Homo sapiens: one gene and its partners. The protein of the gene in region 1 purifies or fractionates together with the protein of each later gene. This does not show direct contact. Each region holds a gene or a part of one and is shown in the gene's direction. Other genes may lie near its edges.

Region 1 (8,003 bases):
AGAAGGCTGGGCGCAGTGGCTCACACCTGTAATCCCAGCACTTTGGGAGGCTGAGACGGGAGTCTCACCTGAGGTCAGGATTTCAAGACCAGCCTGGCCAACATGGTGAAACCCCTGTTTCTACCAAAAATACAAAAATTACCCGGGGGTGGTGGCACACGCCTGTAATCCCAGCTACTCAGGAGACTGAGGAAGAAGAATCGCTTGGACCCGGGAGGTGGAAGTTGCAGTGAGCCGAGATCGTGCCACTGCATTCCAGCCTGGGCGACAGAGAGAGACTCCATCTCAAAAATATAAAAGAGATGAGGGATATTACACAATGATTTTTTAAAAGAAGGTTCAATTTGCCAGGAAGTTGTCAAAATTCCGTATTTGTTTGTACCTCAATTACAGCCTCAAATATTGAATGCAAAAGTTGACAAAACTACAGGGAAGAAAGAAACCCGCAATCATCTCTGTATTCAACAGAATAATTAGACCAAATTTTAAAAGACAGGAAAAATATGGATGTTCTGAACCACACAATTAGCACTCTTGATCTAATGGACTTACCCGGAGCACTGACCCCACAACTGCATGACACATTCAAGAGCCACAAAAATTGGTCATATGGTGTCTTTTAACTAACATCAAAAAATAGAAATCATCAAAGTATATTCGCAGGTCACAGTGCAACTAAGCTACAAATCAATAACAAAAAGATAACTAGAAAACCTCCGTATGTTTGGAAATTAAGAAATATACTTCAGAGAAGATGGGAGGGAATAAGATACAGGACCTAGGTGGAAGGTTGTTTTCGCCAAGAGGAAGGACCTCCTTTGTGTTAACCTCCGCGTGTCTGGACCATAGCTGCACCGCCTCCCAGTGCAATTTTGAACAAGCTAAATTAGTCATCCTGGGAAGTGTTCAAAAATTATTCCAAATGGTGGACTCCAGGACTTCCTTGCTGACTTTCTTACTTTGATCAACTAACTCTATGGCATGATCTTAACAGCTGTAGTTCTCAAGGTTTCCTAAAAGGGAACCTCTTGTTCTCTCCAAATTACAGACCCATCACTGAAGGGCAGGGAGTGAGGTTAACTCCTCCACAAACTAAGTGCTGCTCAGGTCCACATCTAGATGTTTCGGTCCCACAACCACCCAGAGCCTGACATTATTTTGTAAAAACAGATCCTGACAGAGCCAGGAGCAAGAAGAGCCATCAACCCCATCTCTGTGAGGGAGCTGGGGCTTGGCAGGCACAGGCTTGGTTAGGGCCACAATTCTCCTCTGAATAGATTTTGGGTTAACTGGAGATGAAAAACCCAAGTTCAAGGTGAGAGGTCTTTTCCCCGAGATGGACAGGTGGCAACGGGGCCTATCAGAATCACAAGAGAAGCTTCATTAACATGAAATATTCTTCCCTGGGCCGTTCCAGGCCACAGACTGCAGGTTTTCCATCTTTTAGCCCTGGAAACTCTCTGCCTACTTCTTTTCTTTTTCACATGAAATCTTATCAGGGATAACAGGTGAAATTGGAAGCAGTAAGAGCCCTGGAATCCCACTCTCTTGGCTACTCCTCTCTCCAACCACCACCATGGTGCCTAGCCACAGACATTTCAGCCTGAACTTTTAAAATAGTGTGTGTAACCAAATACCTATCTCACCCATTTAAAAAAAAAAAAAGTCTTGAGAAAGTCTAGCTTTGAGTAAGGCAACTTCCTGATATGCGCTCCAAAGTAAACCTGATGCAAAATGTATGAGTGAGGAAATGGGCCACATGGAGTTGTTAGTTGTAGACCTGCTACAAACAGCAAATACTGGTGACACTCGTAAAGTAAAAAGTGGCCACACACACACAGCCCTTTCTTTGGGGTTAATAGTTATCATTGGCCAGTCCAGCCCACCCTATTTTTTTTTTTTTTTTTTGAGACAGAGTCTCACTCTGTTGCCCAGGCTGGAGTGCAGTGGCACAATCACGGTTCACTATAACCTCCACCTCCCCAGTTCAAGTGATTCTCCTGCCTCAGCCTCCCAAGTAGCCGGGATTACAGGCATGCACCACCACGCCTGGCTAATATTTCTGAATTTTTTTAGTAGAGATGGGATTTCACCATGTTAGCCAGGCTGGTCTCGAACTCCTGACCTCAAATGAGCCACCTGCCTCAGTTTCCCAAAGTGCTGGGATTACAGGCCTGAGCCACCGTGCCTGGCCCAGCCTATACTATTTTCGAATAACAAAGTTCTTCCATCTGTAGATAGGAGAATGTTTGTCCTACAAACAGCTCATCTAAAACAGTCCGACATCACATAACAATGATAAAATAGGGAGGGAGGGCCAACACATTATCCCCCTCCTCCACATCCACTGCTTGCCAGAAAAGCTTTCCCTGATACGACTTGATAGGATGGTCTCAGCTTAGGCTGCAGATGCTGTTCAATCCACCACTACAATAACCCCAGGCAGGCCATCTTACATGTTTGCATACCTCAGGTTCCGATTCCATAGGAGGGACAGGCTCTGCTCACGTCAAACACATTAAAATGCACCCAGCGTCCCACATTAAATCGTTTCCGTTTAAACATTTCAAGTGAACTGTATAACTTTGCTTTTGAAACAATCATTTATTTTGCCCAGTTTTTGATTGTTCAAATTTTTGTTTGTTTGTTTGGGGACAGGGTCTCACTGTGTCACCCAGGCTGGAGTGCAGTGGTGCCATCTCAGCTCACTGCAGCCTCAACCTCCTGGGCTCAAGTGATCCTCCCACCTCAGCCTCCTGAGTAGCTGAGACTACAGGTGCACACTACCATACCCAAGTAATTTTTTTGTGTTTTTTTTTGTTTGTTTTGCGGAGGCAGGGTCTTACTATGTTGTGCAGGCTGGTCTTGAACTCCCTGGCTCAAGTGATCTTCCCACCTCGGCCTCCCAAAGTGTTGGGATGACAGGCGTGTGCCAATATGCCTGGTCTGTTCTTCAAATTTTGGATCTGAGAATATTTTCTCAGGTCTCAAACATTTTTGAGATCCTTGGAAATCTTGGGGATTCCACGTACCGCTGTTATCCCTAGTACCCATTGGATAAATCAGTCCTGCCCTGTGAAGCCCACTGCAGGGTTTACTTGTGAGGAAAACATCGAGGACAGCATTTGTTCTACTAAGCAGCGTCCTCTCTGTGGGGACCTTGAGTTCCTTGAGCACAAGGGCTGTGTGGTCTTTCTCACCCCCAGGTCCCCACACCGAGAGCCTGGCCTGGCATGCAACTGTTTAATGTTCAACTAGTGGTAATGCCTAAACTGGACTTCTGTGCACTGACTGAAAATCACCCTTCCTAGGGCACGTTGGCCCTATCCCCAAATCCAGGAACATAGGCCACCACTATTTTATATCTTAGAGCCAATTAGAAAAAAGTGCCTCCCCTGGGCTGTTACACTCCACTAGGAAATCTTTCCTTGGGGCTTACTCACGCCTTCTATGTCTTTCCACAGAGCTGGAGTCCACCCCTCACCCTTACCAGGCCCATTCATGCGCAGGAACACTTCCACACATGGCAGGCTGTGTGCACACAGACGATTCCCTCGCCTTTATAGGTGCTATTCCTTTGACTTGAAAAGCCCATCAACTCTAATCTGCACATACAAACTTCAGCACCCAGCCCAAATGTCACTTTCTCTGTGAATCCTTCCCCTATACCTCTCAGGCAGAGTTCATCCCATCCTCCTTTTTATTCCCATCACAGTGGAAGGTACCCCTATTTGAGTCTTGCCAGGTTGCATCAAATTTCTTTCTTCCGGGTTTGGTTCCCTGCTGCACTGTGCTCTCAAGGGGAAGAGGCGTGTCTCAGTCATCTCAGTCTCCAGTGCCTAGGATGAGACCTTTTATATACATGTGGGTCTTCAATAAATGTTTTAGACGGAATGCAGAGCTCTAGTCAAGTTACTCCTCAGCTCAAAATCTCTACAGAACCTTCCCCTTTGCTTCCTGACTTTGTTTCAAATTCCTCTACCAGGCACGCAGAAGCTTAGCCCACAGCTCTCCTCTTGCCTCCCCACCTCACATGCCTTGGCTCACCTGCGCTTCTGGGTGCTGCTGGTACAGCCACCCTCTGACACTTCCTTACCTCTGGACCTTTGCTCATCTGTCCCTCTACCTATAATGCCATCTTCCCCTCTCCCCCTGTCAAAATTCTAGCCATCCTTCAAGGCCCAGGCCAAATGCCATTTTCTTTTTTTTTTTTTTTTTTTTTTTGGAGATGGAGTCTCCCTCTGTCGGCCAAGCTGGAATGCAGGGTCAGGAGCATCTCAGCTTACTGCAACCTCTGTCTTCCGGGTTCAAGCGATTTTCCTGCCTCAGCTTCCCAAGTGGCTGGGACTACAGGCATGCACCACCACACCTGGCTAATTTTTGTATTTTTATTAGAGATGGGGTTTCACCATTTTGGCCAGGCTGGTCTTGAACTCCTGACTTCAAGTGATCCACCTGCCTCAGCCTCCCAGAGTGCTGGGACTACAGGGTGAGCCCCCATGCCCAACCTCAAATGCCATTTTCTTCTTGAAGCATCCCATCAGCAGATGTGGCCTCCACTGTTGAAACCCACAGTGCTTTATCCTCCCAAGCCATTCCTCAAACACGGTTCTGGGGTTGAATGATGCGTGTTTGTAATTAACGCACTTCGACAGCAGGTATCTCCCAACTTCAGCATAGTGGGTGCTCAGTGAATATTGGCCCAAATGGAATTGAGCATCCATGCTACACCTGCAGATGGGAGAGGCAGCAAACTCATGTCCCAGGAACCAGCATGACACAGATCTCTCTTGTCCTCCCCTTGTTTCTCAATAAGGACAATATTTGCGCTCAGGGGAGAAGGGCACAGCTTGCCCCTCCCTTCCTTCCTCAGCCAACGGTTTGGCTTCCCTTCTAGAGAGGTGAGAGAAGGTGTGACAGGCCAAGTTTCCTTTGCTCCACCCCATGGTGTTTCCCCCAAACACCCAGCATAAGTTCACCTCTGGCAGAGTTGCTTTCCAGCTCCTGCAGGTGGGAGTCGACTCACCTGCAGCAGGCACTCGGCACAACTCCGCAGGACCGGCTCACCTGCACCGGGCACTCAGCACAGCCTCCAGCATGCAGCGCCTCCCCGCTGCCACCCGGGCCACCCTGATCCTCAGCCTGGCCTTTGCCTCCCTCCACTCGGCTTGCTCGGCAGGTAGCGTTATGAGCTTTATTCATGGCCAGGCTGGGAAGGGGGAGGGAAGGAGGGAAGAGAGGTGGGAGGGAAAGAAGGAGGAGGGGGAAGATTCTTTGGCCAGGGTTGGTCCTGCGCAAAGGAAGGAGGAAACAGAACTTTCTCATCTGAAGGATTAGGCAGGGGGTGGGAGGTGGGGCTGGGGCAGGGGGGGTCTTAGGTTGGCCTGAGACGGAGATCAGATACTCAATTCCTCAGCTAAGGCAGGAGCAGCCACCTCTCTTGGCCTTTGCCACAAAGAAAGGAAAAAGTTATTTGCTGGAGTCTCACCCATCAGGGGACCAAAATGATATCTCTTGGTCCGCTGTGTCCTGAAGGCTCCTTCTCAGCCCCACTGGGCTGTCGTGCTTTGCAATCCTCCCTGTGCACATTTGTGTCTGACCTTCCCTTTCCTAAGTCCTCCATCCCTCCCTGCCCCTTGTACTTTCTCTGCGACTTTCACAAAACCTGACTGCCAGGAGGGCTGCCATTCACTGTCTCCCACCCTCCTGCCTCCCCGGGCACTGGAAATGCTGGGTTATCTCCCCATTTTCCTGTGGAGGCTGGAAGGCTGATCTACATCCCCTGCCTTGCCCTGCCAGGCCGGGTTCTGCAACTCACGGCAGAGGGACCTTGGTTACCATCTTCTGCTCCTGGCTTTGATCTTGTTCTCAGCCACCTCAGAACACCACCACACTCTCTATGCCCTGCAACACTCCTGCTCCCAAAACCAACCCTGCCCCCAAAGTCCTGTGTCTGCCCCTCTCATCCTCAGACTCTCTTCTGTAGCCACTGCCAGGGGTGTTGGTGTTGAGGTTCAAGACGTGCACTCTTGAGCCGCTGAGCCTGAACCCAGGTCCAGCTTCCATGACTCACTAGCTATGCGACCTCGAGCAAATGACTTTACCTCTCTATGCCAAGTTTCCTCCTTTATCTCATGGGGACAATCATAGTGCTTGTCAAGACGAATTGATGTAATTTCATGTAAAGAACTTAGAAATAGCCCATAGAACACACACAGTGAATGTCAGCAATTATGGTAAGCACATTCATTTTATTTTCCAACTTCACCCCTCCCCAAATAAGAGTGCTGAGTTTCTTTCTACTTACCCCGACAGTGCCTTGCTTATGATGGGAGCTCAGAATCAGAAGACAAGTTTAACTGCACTGAATCGTTGGGTCTTCCCAGCAGCTTTTCTTGTGGAATAGCCCCAAGTAGGGCCAGTCCCTCCCTCGCTTCTGGCTCTGCTTATAAGGGAGGAGGGCGATGTTTAAATTCTTAGGAATTTTCACCGGGGCTATTCCATTTGAACCACAGAAAATTGCTGATATTGAACAATTTTCACCTATAACAATGGCAATTTCATAAGCTCGAACCTAACCCTAGCATTCAGCCAACTAGGGTTTTTTTCCACTCACTTTGGAAGAGGACAACTTCCATTCTAGGTGTAGAGGTGAAATGAAAGTCAGGGCCAAGGAAGTTATTTGAGTCATAAGGAAAATTAGAATAGTGAGGAATCAGTTTCTCCAAAACAAATAAAGACCAGGCTCTAAGCCATTTAGCTGTAAATAATTTACAGTAACAGATTGCATCGAGGCAATTACTATACTTTAAGCAGGACATTGGAGTGGCTTGGGGGTTGGGTGGCATAAAATTAGTCTCAGCAGCAACTTCATGGCTTTAGCTAAACAGCAGGTTTCTTCTGAACTCGTCCTGCTGTGACAACAAGCTCCCTTGAAGGACACACTGACCCACAGCCAGGGGAACCTTGAGAGTTTCCATGCCCACCACTTTTTTTTTTTTCCTTTTTGCATTCCCCAAGAAGCAGAACGAACAGCAATATAATTTCTAGGAAGGTTCTTCCAATCCATCTCTTGGTTTCCATCTACCTAGGTCAGCATGAGCACTGTCTAATAATAGAACTTGCACTGAGGGTGGAAATGTCCCATGTCTGAGTGGTGCTTCCAATATGGTAGCCACTAGTCACACGCGGCAATGGAACCCTTGGCATGGGTCTAATGTAAACAAGAAGCTGAGTTTTTTTTACTGAATTTGATTTTAATAAATTTAAACAACCACAGGTGGCTAGTGGCTGCCGTATTGAACAGTATGGACTTAGAGGTCATCTCTCTTCTTATTGTCAGTTATGGACAGGAACCTGGATGCCTCAGATCCCTAACCCAATCCCACACCTCAAGACAACAGGACTTTAACAATTCATGCTAAAGTCCTTTTTATCTTTCCACTCCTTGCTCATGAATCAATCTATGTGCTGCGTATTCTGGCAGTCTCTGGGCTTGCTTCTATGATGTTTAATTTTTTTTGACAGCCATCATTCTGGAGGCTGGAAGTCCAAGATCAAGGTGTTGATGGTTTGATTTCTCCTGAGGCCTCCCTCCTTGGGTTGCAAATAGACGCCTTCTCACTGGGTTCTCACGTGGACTTTTCTCTGTGCATGTGTGTTGCTGATGTTTCTTCTTCTTCTTCTTCTTCTTCTTCTTTTTTTTTTTTTTTTAGACGGAGTTTCACTCGTCACCCAGGCTGGAGTGCAATGGTGTGATCTCAGCTCACTGAACCTCCGCCTCCTGGGTTCAAGCAATTCTGCTGCCCCAGCCTCCCAAGTAGCTGGGATTACAGGCATGCACCACCACGCCCGGCTGCTTTTGTATTTTTAGTAGAGACAGGGTTTCATCATGTTGGCCAGGCTGTTCTTGAACTCCTGACCTCAGGTGATCTGCCCACCTCGGCCTCCCAAAATGCTGGGATTACAGGTGTGAACCACTGCACCTGGCCTCTTCCTCATCT
Region 2 (4,734 bases), on another chromosome or scaffold:
GACAGATCCTTTACTGACTCCCATGGAAAAGGCCTCTCTCCAAGCCATGAGCCTGGAAGAGGCAAAGATGCACCGAGCAGAGCTTCAGAGGGCTCGGGCTCTGCAGTCCTACTATGAGGCCAAGGCTCGAAAAGAGAAGAAAATCAAAAGTAAAAAGTATCACAAAGTCGTGAAGAAAGGAAAGGCCAAGAAAGCCTTAAAAGAGTTTGAGCAGCTACAGAAGGTTAATCCAACTGTGGCACTGGAAGAAATGGAAAAAATTGAAAATGCCAGAATGATGGAAAGAATGAGCCTTAAGCACCAAAACAGTGGGAAATGGGCCAAGTCAAAGGCAATTATGGCCAAATATGACCTGGAGGCTCGCCAAGCTATGCAGGAACAGTTGGCCAAGAACAAAGAACTGACACAGAAACTCCAGGTAGCCTCTGAGAGTGAGGAAGAGGAGGGAGGCACAGAAGTGGAAGAACTCCTTGTCCCTCATGTAGCGAATGAAGTGCAGATGAATGTGGACGGACCGAATCCCTGGATGTTCAGGAGCTGCACCAGTGACACCAAAGAGGCTGCAACACAGGAGGACCCTGAGCAAGTGCCAGAGCTTGCAGCTCATGAGGTTTCTGCAAGTGAGGCAGAAGAAAGACCAGTGGCAGAGGAAGAAATTTTGTTGAGAGAATTTGAGGAAAGGCAATCCCTTAGAAAAAGATCTGAGCTCAACCAGGATGCTGAGCCAGCAAGCAGTCAAGAAACAAAAGATTCTAGCAGCCAGGAGGTGCTGTCCGAATTGAGGGCACTATCTCAGAAATTGAAGGAAAAACATCAGTCCAGGAAGCAAAAAGCAAGTTCAGAGGGGACTGTTCCCCAGGTCCAGAGAGAGGAACCTGCCCCAGAAGAAGCGGAACCCCTATTGCTACAGAGGTCAGAGAGAGTACAAACTCTGGAAGAGCTAGAAGAGCTGGGAAAAGAAGATTGTTTTCAAAATAAGGAGCTTCCCAGACCTGTGTTAGAAGGACAGCAGTCAGAGAGGACCCCAAATAATCGGCCTGATGCCCCTAAGGAGAAGAAAGAGAAGGAGCAACTGATCAACCTACAGAACTTCCTGACCACACAGTCTCCTTCCGTGAGGTCTTTGGCAGTTCCCACAATAATAGAGGAGCTGGAAGATGAAGAGGAGAGAGACCAAAGGCAGATGATAAAGGAAGCTTTTGCTGGGGATGATGTCATCAGAGATTTCTTGAAAGAGAAGAGGGAAGCTGTGGAGGCGAGTAAGCCAAAGGACGTGGACCTGACACTACCTGGCTGGGGCGAGTGGGGTGGTGTGGGCCTAAAGCCCAGTGCCAAGAAAAGACGCCAGTTTCTCATTAAAGCCCCTGAGGGTCCTCCAAGAAAAGATAAGAATTTGCCAAATGTGATTATCAGTGAGAAGCGCAACATCCACGCAGCAGCTCATCAGGTACAAGTGCTTCCATATCCATTTACCCACCATCGGCAATTTGAAAGGACCATCCAGACCCCTATAGGATCCACATGGAACACCCAGAGGGCTTTCCAAAAGCTGACTACTCCCAAGGTCGTCACCAAGCCAGGCCATATCATTAAGCCCATAAAAGCAGAGGATGTGGGCTACCAGTCTTCCTCAAGGTCAGACCTGCCTGTCATACAGAGGAATCCAAAACGAATCACCACACGTCACAATAAAGAAGAAAAACTGTAGGTTGTGTAGCTGGAGAAGTGACAGTCAGGGGCCCTGATTCCACTTCCTTTGGTCCAGTTTTACTCTGCTACAGGGTGGATTCCAAAACTGGCTCAGCACATTGCATGTAGTTGAGCCACATTTTTTAAAAAAAGAAAATGGATGACCATTAATTGACTAGCATTTTAGAATTGATCAGACATTAGAACACAGAAAAATTCTAGTACATTTAAATTCTAAACAATACAGTGGATGACCCTTTTGAATATACCTAATGATTTCCTTAAAAAAGAAATTTTAAACAGACTTGTTTAATCGTGTTCTCAAAGCATACAGTCAAGAGGTGGGACTGACTGATGCTTTATAGGTGTGTGTAGGGTGGTAGAGGCCAAGGTGCTGCCAGCAATCCTTTCCATACTAGGTACTGGTGAAAATTGTTTTTGTTTATGCTGTCAGCACATTTGTGTGGGTCTCTCATTGTCCCTTAACAGTGCCGCATCTCAGCCTGGAAGTCAGCTTTAAGTCATTCAAGAGAACCTCAGGCTGTTTTTCTGACAGTGATGATATGATATACAGATACATCCACAGGGTATCTATTACCAGCATAATGCATTGTAAGATGGCAAGGTGGCATTTTGAAAGAGCGCTGGGCAAGCAGTTAGCACATCTGGGCCTACCTTCAGCTTCTTCATTTACAAACTTCTGACCTTTTGACACTAAAGCTGCTCCTTTATCTTTCTGAGTCTCAGATTCTTCATCTGTAATCTGGAGTTGTTAATTCCAGTCCTTACTACCTTTTAGAGTTGGAATGAGATGGAAAGTAGATGAAACTACTTTGAAAATTACGACAGTTAAGGGCTGGGTGCGGTGTCTCACACCTGTAATCCCAGCACTTTGGGAGGCCGAGATGGGTGGATCATGAGGTCAGCAGTTGAGACCAGCCTGAACAACATGGTGAAACCCTGTCTGTACTAAAAATACAAAAAAATTAGCTGGGCCTGGTGGCAGGCACCTGTAATCCCAGCTACTTGGGAGACTGAGGCAGGAGAATTGCTTGAAACTGGAAGGCAGAGGTTGCAGTGAGCCAAGATTGTGCCACTGCACTCTAGCCTGGGCAATAAGCAAAACTCCATCTCAAAAAAGAAAAAAAGGAAAAAGAAAATTATGAGAGTTACTTAAAGGTAACATCACATACTAAATGTCTTCTATAATCCTATATTTATTAATGCATTACAACTCTGTAGATTGTTAGTTACTAGGCCAGTAGCTAGGAATTGGTATAAATTTAATGCACCTTCTATCCTGAATAACTAGCATGGAAAAGTGAATATATGTGTGAGCAGATATGGCTATAAAGACCTATAGCTTTTGCACTTTATGCATATATAATCAATCCTTTCTAGTTCAGTGAATTGACCCCATCCACAGGCTGATTCATCTTTGTGTTAAGGGGCAAATGAAACGGTATATTATTTCTTTGCAGTCTCCTCTCAGTCATTCATCAATGTGGCCAGCTTATCTACTCCCAATTATGTTGTTGATACATCTCCAAGCCATCTGTCATCAGATCAAAAAGCAGCAAACAGAGGGTCAGTCACAGGATGTTCTGACACACCATTGTAACTTTTTGTTAGAGATGATCCCATTTAGAAAAAGACTGGTAGAAATTGGAGTGAAAGGAACCCTACAGATTAGCCCAGTTCTCTCTTATTTTCAGCTTTACAGACAAGAACAATTTAAATCTAAAGAATTTAGTAGATTCCTTCAGTGTCACAAAGCTGTTTCATGAAAGAATCAAGATTATAACCTGGATATTCTGACTCCTGGCCCAGTGCTTTTTCTTACTTTGTAGCTACACTTTGAAGTAAGATTCAAACTGTTATCCACTCAATTGCCTTATTCCTGAGGATGTAGTGAAGGAAGAAAAAGTTTTCTGGAATTCCGTAAATTATATTTTAAGCTTATTTCTTCAAAATTATTTTCATATATCACAGATATATCATTGGAAGATATAATTTGCATATATGTTCATTATCAGTGTTCCTAATTTGGTATTACATGTATTCTATTTTTTTCTGAATGATAGCATGAAAAGTGTCAAAGTGGTTTGTCCGCTAGCGTCTGTCTGCAGAACTTTCAGGATGACTATTAATTCCTCTCAGATGTCATTTTTGAGTGGTCCAAGCCTGCTGTTTTGAACCCACAGCAGTGGAGATTTGTATTCTTATTTACAGTTGTGTACTATAAAGTGTGTGTTACATAGGTTTTGTGTAATAATTATTTGTAAATATTATTTAGATTTGTATTTAGACATGATTTATATCTAATATAGATACAAAGTCTGTGTCTAAATATTATTTAAAGAAGTGATTTTTCATTCTCTTGGATTCTTTCCAGTGTGGTGCCTTTTATATGCCTCACATAGTCTCCTTGTTCTCCTACTAATATTCCCAAGCTCCATATGCCAATTAAAGAAGAAACAAAAATAAAAGTTTGTCTTGCTTGTGAAACATTAAGAAGAGGCTGTCAGGTTTAATAAACTTTTTAATGAATATTTCAGACATAACAAAAAACTGCAGAGCTTCGTACACTTGATTTAAATAATTCTTGAGGGATTTTATAAGGTCATCTTATAGACAAAATTAAGAGACACCAGTGTGGTTATCAATGCTTTCAGAATACTTGTGTTTATGTAAATATACCCCAGAGTCCAAAACTCTGATATATTCATATATATTCACAATGAGAGGATGTCTGTGCCAAATCTGTCAATCAGTACAATAGAAAAGTTAATTATATAACTACAACACGAAACACAAATTTTTAGAAGCAAATTATGTCCTGTAATTTACCCCCCTCCCCGCTGCTCCTCTGCTAACTCATTTTCCTCTTTTCCCACTCTAAATGTAAGGCAACCCTTGGCTTTGGAGAAGCATCTGTTCCAATATTCTGGTGCTATGTGCTCAGTTGTACTATATGCAAATGTTACTAGACACAGAGGAGGTCAAAGTGTTGATACACTTATTGCTACCATTTACAGAATGATC
Region 3 (7,031 bases), on another chromosome or scaffold:
GGAGTGCAGTGGCGTGATCTCGGATCACTGCGACCTCCCGAGCTCAAGCAATTCTCCTGCCTCAGCCTCCCGAGTAGCTGGGATTACAGGCGCCTGCCACCATGCCCAACTAATTTTTTTGTATCTTTAGTAGAAATGGGGTTTTGCCAGGTTGGTCTTGAACTCCTGACCTCAAGTAATCTGCCCACCTCAGCCTCCCAAGGTGCTGGGATTACAGGTTTGAGCTACTGTGTCCGGCCTGTTCCTTTTACTCTCTATACCAAAATTAACTCTTTTCATTCTGAAAGAATCGTATAGGAGTGCACTAAGTTTTATTATAAATTCCTTGACCCTAGCTCCTTCTGGGTGTTTGGGTACAATAAGATTTTTTTAAAGACAGCAACTGCTAATTGATGTTATCAGTAAAACAGTGAAGGAAGAGACAGGTAAGAAAACTTAACTTTTTTCCAGCCTCTTTTGGCGGAGGAAAAATGGGGCTTTCCCATTCTTTTTATTTGTAGCTGCCTACTACTGAGAACATCTGCTCCCCCTCAAGCACCACCAGCCTGGGGTTAGGTCTTTAACCATTAGTTGGGGCTGTAATTATTGTGTTAGGGTAATGTAGAGTAGTTGTTTTCCTTTAGAGTGGTATGTTCTCTGCCTTCAAGAAGCTTATAGTGAACATTTGGTGGAAAAAAGTGCCAAGATTCAAGGGAATTACTAGCTTTTCCTCTTCCTTAAACCTCTGTTCTACATTGGCTTATGCTTTAGATTATGAACTTATTTTGAGCTCTTCACAAGAAAATGTTTTGTAAATTCAAGGCAATATAATAGATTGCTATAGACCCACTGTGTATATGGTATCATAATGCTTCCTGGGCCTGTCAGGCTAGTTAAAAAATATTGGCTGGGTGTGGTGGCTTATGCCTGTAATCCAGACAAGCCTGGGCAACATAGTGAGACCCTATGTCTATACCCGTCCACCTCCCCCCACCCCCCAAAAAAAATCACAGTGCTAATCTTGAAGTGTTATCTTGTTCTGTTACATCTCTACAAAGTTGCCCATCAGGTTGGAAATCTTCAATGTATTAAAGAAGATTTTAGGAATATTTGTAGTTATTTCAGTAATCAGAGTCAGTCAATACTACTTACCTGTTGTTAGGTCTTTGAGGGAATGGAAAGCTAGTGTTTCAAGATCTTTCTCCTAATGGAAAACTAGACCAGGTGTGTTAGCTCTCGCCTGTAATCCCAGCATTTTGGGAGGCTGAGGTGGGTGGATCACCTGAGGTCAGGAGTTCAAAACCAGCCTTACCAACATGGTGAAACCCCATCTCTACTAAAAATACAAAAAATTAGCCAGGTGTGGTGGTGGGTGCCTGTAATCCCAGCTACTCGGGAGGCTGAGGCAGGAAAATTGCTTGAACCCAGGAGGTGGAGGTTGCTGTCAGTGGAGGTTGCGCCATTGCACTTTAGCCTGGGCAACAAAAGTGAAACTCTGTCTCAAAAAATAAGAAAAAATAAAGAAAACTAAGGATGTGGTAGACAGACAAAACCTAGAAGTGAAAAGGTATTTGGGTACCTGTAATAAAATTTATTGAAATTTGGTGGTATAAGTGTGGGCTGAATGCCGAAGGAAGGCTCATTGGAAGGAATAGAACTTGAGTAAAACCAAACAAAGGAACTATTTTGGGTTGGGGTAATGCTGAGAAAACATTTGAAGCATTGTGGTAATACAAGCTTGCCATATGAGGTGATAGATTGAGGGAGCCTTAGAGGATTTTTAAGAAATGTTATGAGCCAAGCACAGTGGCTGGTGCCTGTAATCCCAGCTACTTGGGAGGCTGGGATGGGAGGATCTTTGAGTCCAGGGGGCTTCAGTATGCTACGAAAACACCTGTGACTGGCCACTGCACTCCAACCTGGGTAACATAGTAAGACCCTGTCTCTTAACAAAAAAGGAATGTTATGAAATAATAATTTAGGCTTTACCTGTATACAGGGTTGTTTAGAGGAGAGGAAGTGTGTAGGAAAGGCAAGGAGGAGATCATTTTGGAGGCCTCTTAGAAATAGCCCAGGCATATGGTAATGAAGATGTAAACTGATAGTCATAAATAGGCATGGAGAGGAAGGATCCAGTGAACAGTAGTGTGGAAGCAGAATTCAAAAGACTTGGAGACTTGCATTCTGGGAGCAGGAGTAAGGCATTAGTGGACTCTGGGAGTTTGCACTTGGGTGACAGAATGTTGGTGCTGTTGACTGAAATAGTGAAGTTGGGAAAGAGCCAGTTAGACATTGGGGGAGAGGTTTGCAGGCAAAGAAGAGGGTACTAAGTTTAATTTTAGATGTGCTGAATTGGAAACTGTGGTATTGGTATAAAAAGTTGATCCTGTGGTCATCTGACAGTGTGCTGGAGGTAATTCATTCAATACATTTTGAGTCAGGCTCATTAACATATAATTTCCCTAAAATAATAGTCACCACTCTTTTTTTTTTTTTTTGAGACGGAGTCTCACTCTTGTCCAGGCTGCAGTGCAGTGGCACGATCTCAGCTCACTGCAACCTCTGCCTTCCGGGTTCCAGCGATTCTCCTGCCTCAGCCTCCTGAGTGGCTGGGATTACAGGTGCCCGCCACCACTCCCAGCTAATTTTTGTATTTTTAGTAGAGACAGGGTTTCACCATGTTGGCCAGGCTGGTCTCGAACTCCTGGCCTCAAGTGATCCGCCCGCCTCAGCCTCCCAAAGTGCTGGGATTACAGGCGTGAGCCACCATACCTGGCCCCAATAGTCATCCTTTTTAAGTGTATAGTTTGGTGAGTTTTGACAAAGTATGCAATTGTGTAACTACTACCACGACGGAAGATACAGACTATTTCCATTTAACATTTCCATCTCCAGAAAAAAGTTGTGTCTCTTGTAGTTGGTTCTCTTGCACTATACCTAACCCTTAGCAATCACTGATACGTTTTCTGACCCTAGTTTTGGCCTTTCCTGGAGTATCCTATAAATGGAATTATTCGGTATGTAGTTTTTTGTGTTTGGCTTGTTTTACTTAGCATAATACTTTTGACAGTCATCGAGTTGTGCATTTATCAATAGCACATTCCTTTTTATTGCAAGTAGTATTCCTAATATGTTTTACCCTTTTACATTGAACAATATTTGGGGTGTTTACAGTTTTGGTCTGTTGTGAACGAAGTTACTATGAACATTTGCATATGGGTCTATGTGTAGATATGTTTTCATTTCTCTTGAGTAAATAGGACTGGGTTGCCTGTCATATGGTAAGTATGTGTTTAAACTCCTAAGAAGCTGTCTGGTTTCCAAAGTGGCTATGCTGTTTTGCATTCCTCTTAGCAATGGTTGAGAGTTTCAGGTTGTTCGTATCCTTGTAAGGACTTGGTATTTGTTTTAAAATTTTAGTCTTTGATAATGGGTATGTAGTGCTTTGTCATTGTGGTTTTAATATGCACTTCCCTAATGATATTGAGCATCTTTTCATGTTTTTATTTGCTTTTTCCTTTATCTTTGGTAAAGTGTTTGTTCACATTTTTTGTCCATGTTTTATTGGGTTATTTGTCATCCTATTGAATTGTAATAGTTCATTGTATATTCTGGTTGCAAGTTCTTTATCAGATAATATGTTTTACAGATATTTCTATGGGATGGCTATTCACCTGGTTAATGGTATTGCTTATAGGACAGTTTTAATTTTGATAAAGTCCAATCTATCTGTTTTTTAAATTTATGGGTAGTGCTTTTTGTGTCCTGTCTAAAAAGTTAAGTCATTGCTGTCTCTAAGGTCACAAAGATGTTCTGTGTTCTCTTCAAGAAGTTTTATATATTTTTAGCTGTTATGTTTAGGTCTATGGTTCATTTAGAATTAATGTTTCTAGATAGTGCAAGGCAGAGCTTAAAAGCTTGAGACTCTTTTTTTTAAAATATGATTTCCAGTTGTCATTCAACAGATATCAACTGATTTGGGCATAGTAGTAACACAAATAAACATAAGCAGCCTCTGCTGGCCAGGCCTGGTGGCTCATGCCTATAATCCCAGCACTTTGGGAGGCTGAGATGCGATTCGAGACCAGTCTGGGCAACTTAGACCTTGTCTCTGCAAAAGATTAAAAAACATTAGCCAGGTATAGTGGTGCGTGCCTGTAGTCTCAGCTATTCAGGAAGCTGAGGTGGGAGGATTTCCTGAGTCTGGGAGATTGAGGCTGCAGTGAGCTGTGATCCTGCCACTGCACTCCAGCTTGGGCAACAGAGTGAGACCCTGTCACAGAAAAACCAAAAAAACCAACCATCTCTGCCTATGAAGAATATGCTGGGATACTGTGAAGAAAAGACATGTAAAAGCACAAATTTCAACATGGTATAATGGTTGGAACTATAAACATATATAGATTAATACTCAGATCCTGGCTCTGCTGCCATCCTGGCACAAAGTTCTATAAATGGTGGCTGTTTTTCTGTACTGAATACAGACATTGGACATTGAATAAGGTAATTAGCCTCAAAAGGATGAAAGTATCAAAGAAGGACCTTTTTGTTCCATTTTAAAGATGAAGAAACCAGGGTAGAGGGAGGCTAAATAACTTGCCCAAGGTCACCCAGATGGAAAGATTTTTAGTATATGTTTAAAATTGGTGATGTATCTTCAAGTATTTGTTTTAGGTTGTGCTACATACACTAGGTATAGTGCTACATACACTAGTCACAACCTAAAACAAATACTTCAAGATTCATAACCAGTTTTAGTCTGGAAAAAACTATTGTTTCTCCAGAACAGAAACTATCTTATTTTTCTGTCCCTATTGCCTGGCACTTAAGAGCCCAACAAACATTTAATGGGGTGAAGAAGGTTACTGTTAACGTTACAGTGCACGATATGTGAATTAGATTATAATTTTTCGTGTGCCTTTTGTTAGGCTTTTGAATCTAAAAATCCATAATGAATAAGTCAGCAATATTTGTGTTTTGGGTTTGTTGTTGTTAGGATACAAGATCTCCCTCCCGTCACCCAGGCTGACGTGCTGTGGCTCGATCTCAGCTCACTGCAGCCTTGACTTCCCTGGCTCAGGTGATCCTCCCACATCTCAGCTTTCCAAGTAACTGGGACTATGGGCGCATACCACCACACCTGGATAATTTTTTGTACTTTTAGTAGAGACAGGGTTTCACCATGTCCTCCAGACTGGTCTCAAACTCCTGGGCTCAAGTGATCCACCTGCCTCAGCCTCCCAAAGTGCTAGGATTACAGGTGTGAACCACTTTACCTAGCCTAATATTTGTACTTCTACTGTTCTCTTCTGCCTGCTAGGTTTTTGATAATTTCATAAGATTGAACATAAGAAATGGTGATTTTGAGGCTGGGTACAGTGGCTCACGCCTATAATCCCAGGACTTGGGAGGCCAAGGCTGGCAAATCACTTGATGTCAGGAGTTCGAGACCAGCCTGGTCAACATGGCGAAACTCCATCTCTACTAAAAAAAAAAAAAAAAAAAATTAGATGGGCATGGTGGCATGCACCTGTAATCCCAGATACTTGGGAGGTGGAGGCTGAGACATGAGAATCACTCAAACCTGGGAGGCGGAGGTTGCAGTGAGCTGAGATTGCGCCATTGCACTCCAGCCTGGGCAACAGAGCTAGACCCTGTTTCAAAAAAAGAAAGAAAAGAAGTGGCAATTTTGACCAAAAATGGTCAAGTATTGGCATTTTCATATGGTTCAACCCACGTAAGTCCTAGATCACGTTACCTCCCACTTTGCTAAACTGCTGCTTCCTGTTTCTAAATTTTTTAGTGTTGGAGTCTCACTATGTTGCCCAAGCTGGATTCCAACTCCTTGGCTCAAGTGATCCTCCCACCTCAGCTTCCCTAGTAGCTGGGACTATAGGCATGTGCCACCACACCTGGTAGCTGCTTCCTATTTCTTATTTCAGTGAAAGAATAAATGTAAACAAGATAAAATAAACTAACGTTTGTTCATTTATTGAATAGAGCAAATACTTGTCTCCTTGTACTTGCTTTGTCCCTCTGCTTATGAGGTTTAAATGAACATGTACTTGAAATGTCTTTTCTTAGATGGAGATGGCGATGGAGATGGAGCAACTGGAAAGAAGAAGAAAAAGAAGAAGAAGAAGAGAGGACGTTAGTGTCTTAAGTTAATGTTAATTGATATATTAGAAGTGTTTATTCTGTCGGGTGTGGTGGCTCACACCTGTGATCCCAGCTACTCCGGAGGCTGAGGCAGGAGAATTGCTGGAACCCAAGAGACGGAGATTGCAGTAAGCTGAGATTGTGCCACTGCACTGCAGCCTGGGCAACAGAGTGAGACTCTGTCTCAAAAAAAAAAAAAAAAAAAAAAAGAAGTGGTTATTCACTGACAGGTTTGAAGAGTAGGTTTGAAGTTGCTTAAGGTCCTGATATATGTTAGGGAAATAAACTTAGGCTTAATAGAAGCAGAATTTAGTGAAACTAATAATTATTTATTAGTTTAATAACTTTGGTTTAACAATCCTTTATTTTCTTTAGCTGTTAGCTAAGGGATGTCGATATGAATTGGTTGCATTTTACTGCAAGTTAGGGATGAGTTTCTAAAAATTTTATGATTTAAAACTTGCATAATTTAAAGAATAATTCTGTCAAGAATGGCCGAAGTGGTGCCATGGTGGTGGTAGGGTAAGCGTTGTTTGTAATTTACCTTCCAGCTTTTAAATTATGAGATTCTTGATGAGTATTTAATGAGGAATCCCGTTATTTAAGATGTGTGCATATGGTGAGACTTTATTATTAATAATAACTTTTATATTGTACGATCAGATTTGTATAAAATATCCTGCTTGTTTTGAGTTTCTGTAAGTGCCACAACCAAACATCATCAGGTGCCCGAAAATATATTAAGGAGGCTGAAGGGAGATTTCGTAGTGTTGAGGAAGAAAGGTTGGGTTGAGAATCACAACATGTAAGTTTTAATCTTGGATGCCATTTGGGCTGTTGTAGACCACTGAATGTCTGGTTATGCCTTCCTTTAAAATTTTTCAGGCTAAAAT

The links. The genes of interacting proteins can lie anywhere in the genome.
Region 2: the proteins of TMEM213 (region 1) and ALG11 purify together in Homo sapiens (affinity purification with mass spectrometry; 2 studies listed by BioGRID and IntAct, with this or other methods). This does not show direct contact.
Region 3: the proteins of TMEM213 (region 1) and METAP2 purify together in Homo sapiens (affinity purification with mass spectrometry; 2 studies listed by BioGRID and IntAct, with this or other methods). This does not show direct contact.

The regions. Positions count from the first base shown.
Region 1 is NC_000007.14:138,793,008-138,801,010, forward strand, and holds the start of TMEM213 (transmembrane protein 213 precursor), read left to right. Parts: upstream 1-4,986; 5' UTR 4,987-5,097; coding exon 5,098-5,179; exon of another isoform or gene 5,180-5,189; intron 5,190-8,003.
Region 2 is NC_000013.11:52,029,398-52,034,131, forward strand, and holds the end of ALG11 (GDP-Man:Man(3)GlcNAc(2)-PP-Dol alpha-1,2-mannosyltransferase), read left to right. Parts: coding exon of another isoform or gene 1-1,708; 3' UTR 1,709-4,203; downstream 4,204-4,734. Other genes in the region: UTP14C (U3 small nucleolar RNA-associated protein 14 homolog C), read left to right, coding at 1-1,708. UniProt on the Homo sapiens protein: GDP-Man:Man(3)GlcNAc(2)-PP-Dol alpha-1,2-mannosyltransferase that operates in the biosynthetic pathway of dolichol-linked oligosaccharides, the glycan precursors employed in protein asparagine (N)-glycosylation.
Region 3 is NC_000012.12:95,477,152-95,484,182, forward strand, and holds part of METAP2 (methionine aminopeptidase 2), read left to right. Parts: intron 1-6,063; coding exon 6,064-6,129; intron 6,130-7,031. UniProt on the Homo sapiens protein: Cotranslationally removes the N-terminal methionine from nascent proteins. The N-terminal methionine is often cleaved when the second residue in the primary sequence is small and uncharged (Met-Ala-, Cys, Gly, Pro, Ser, Thr, or Val).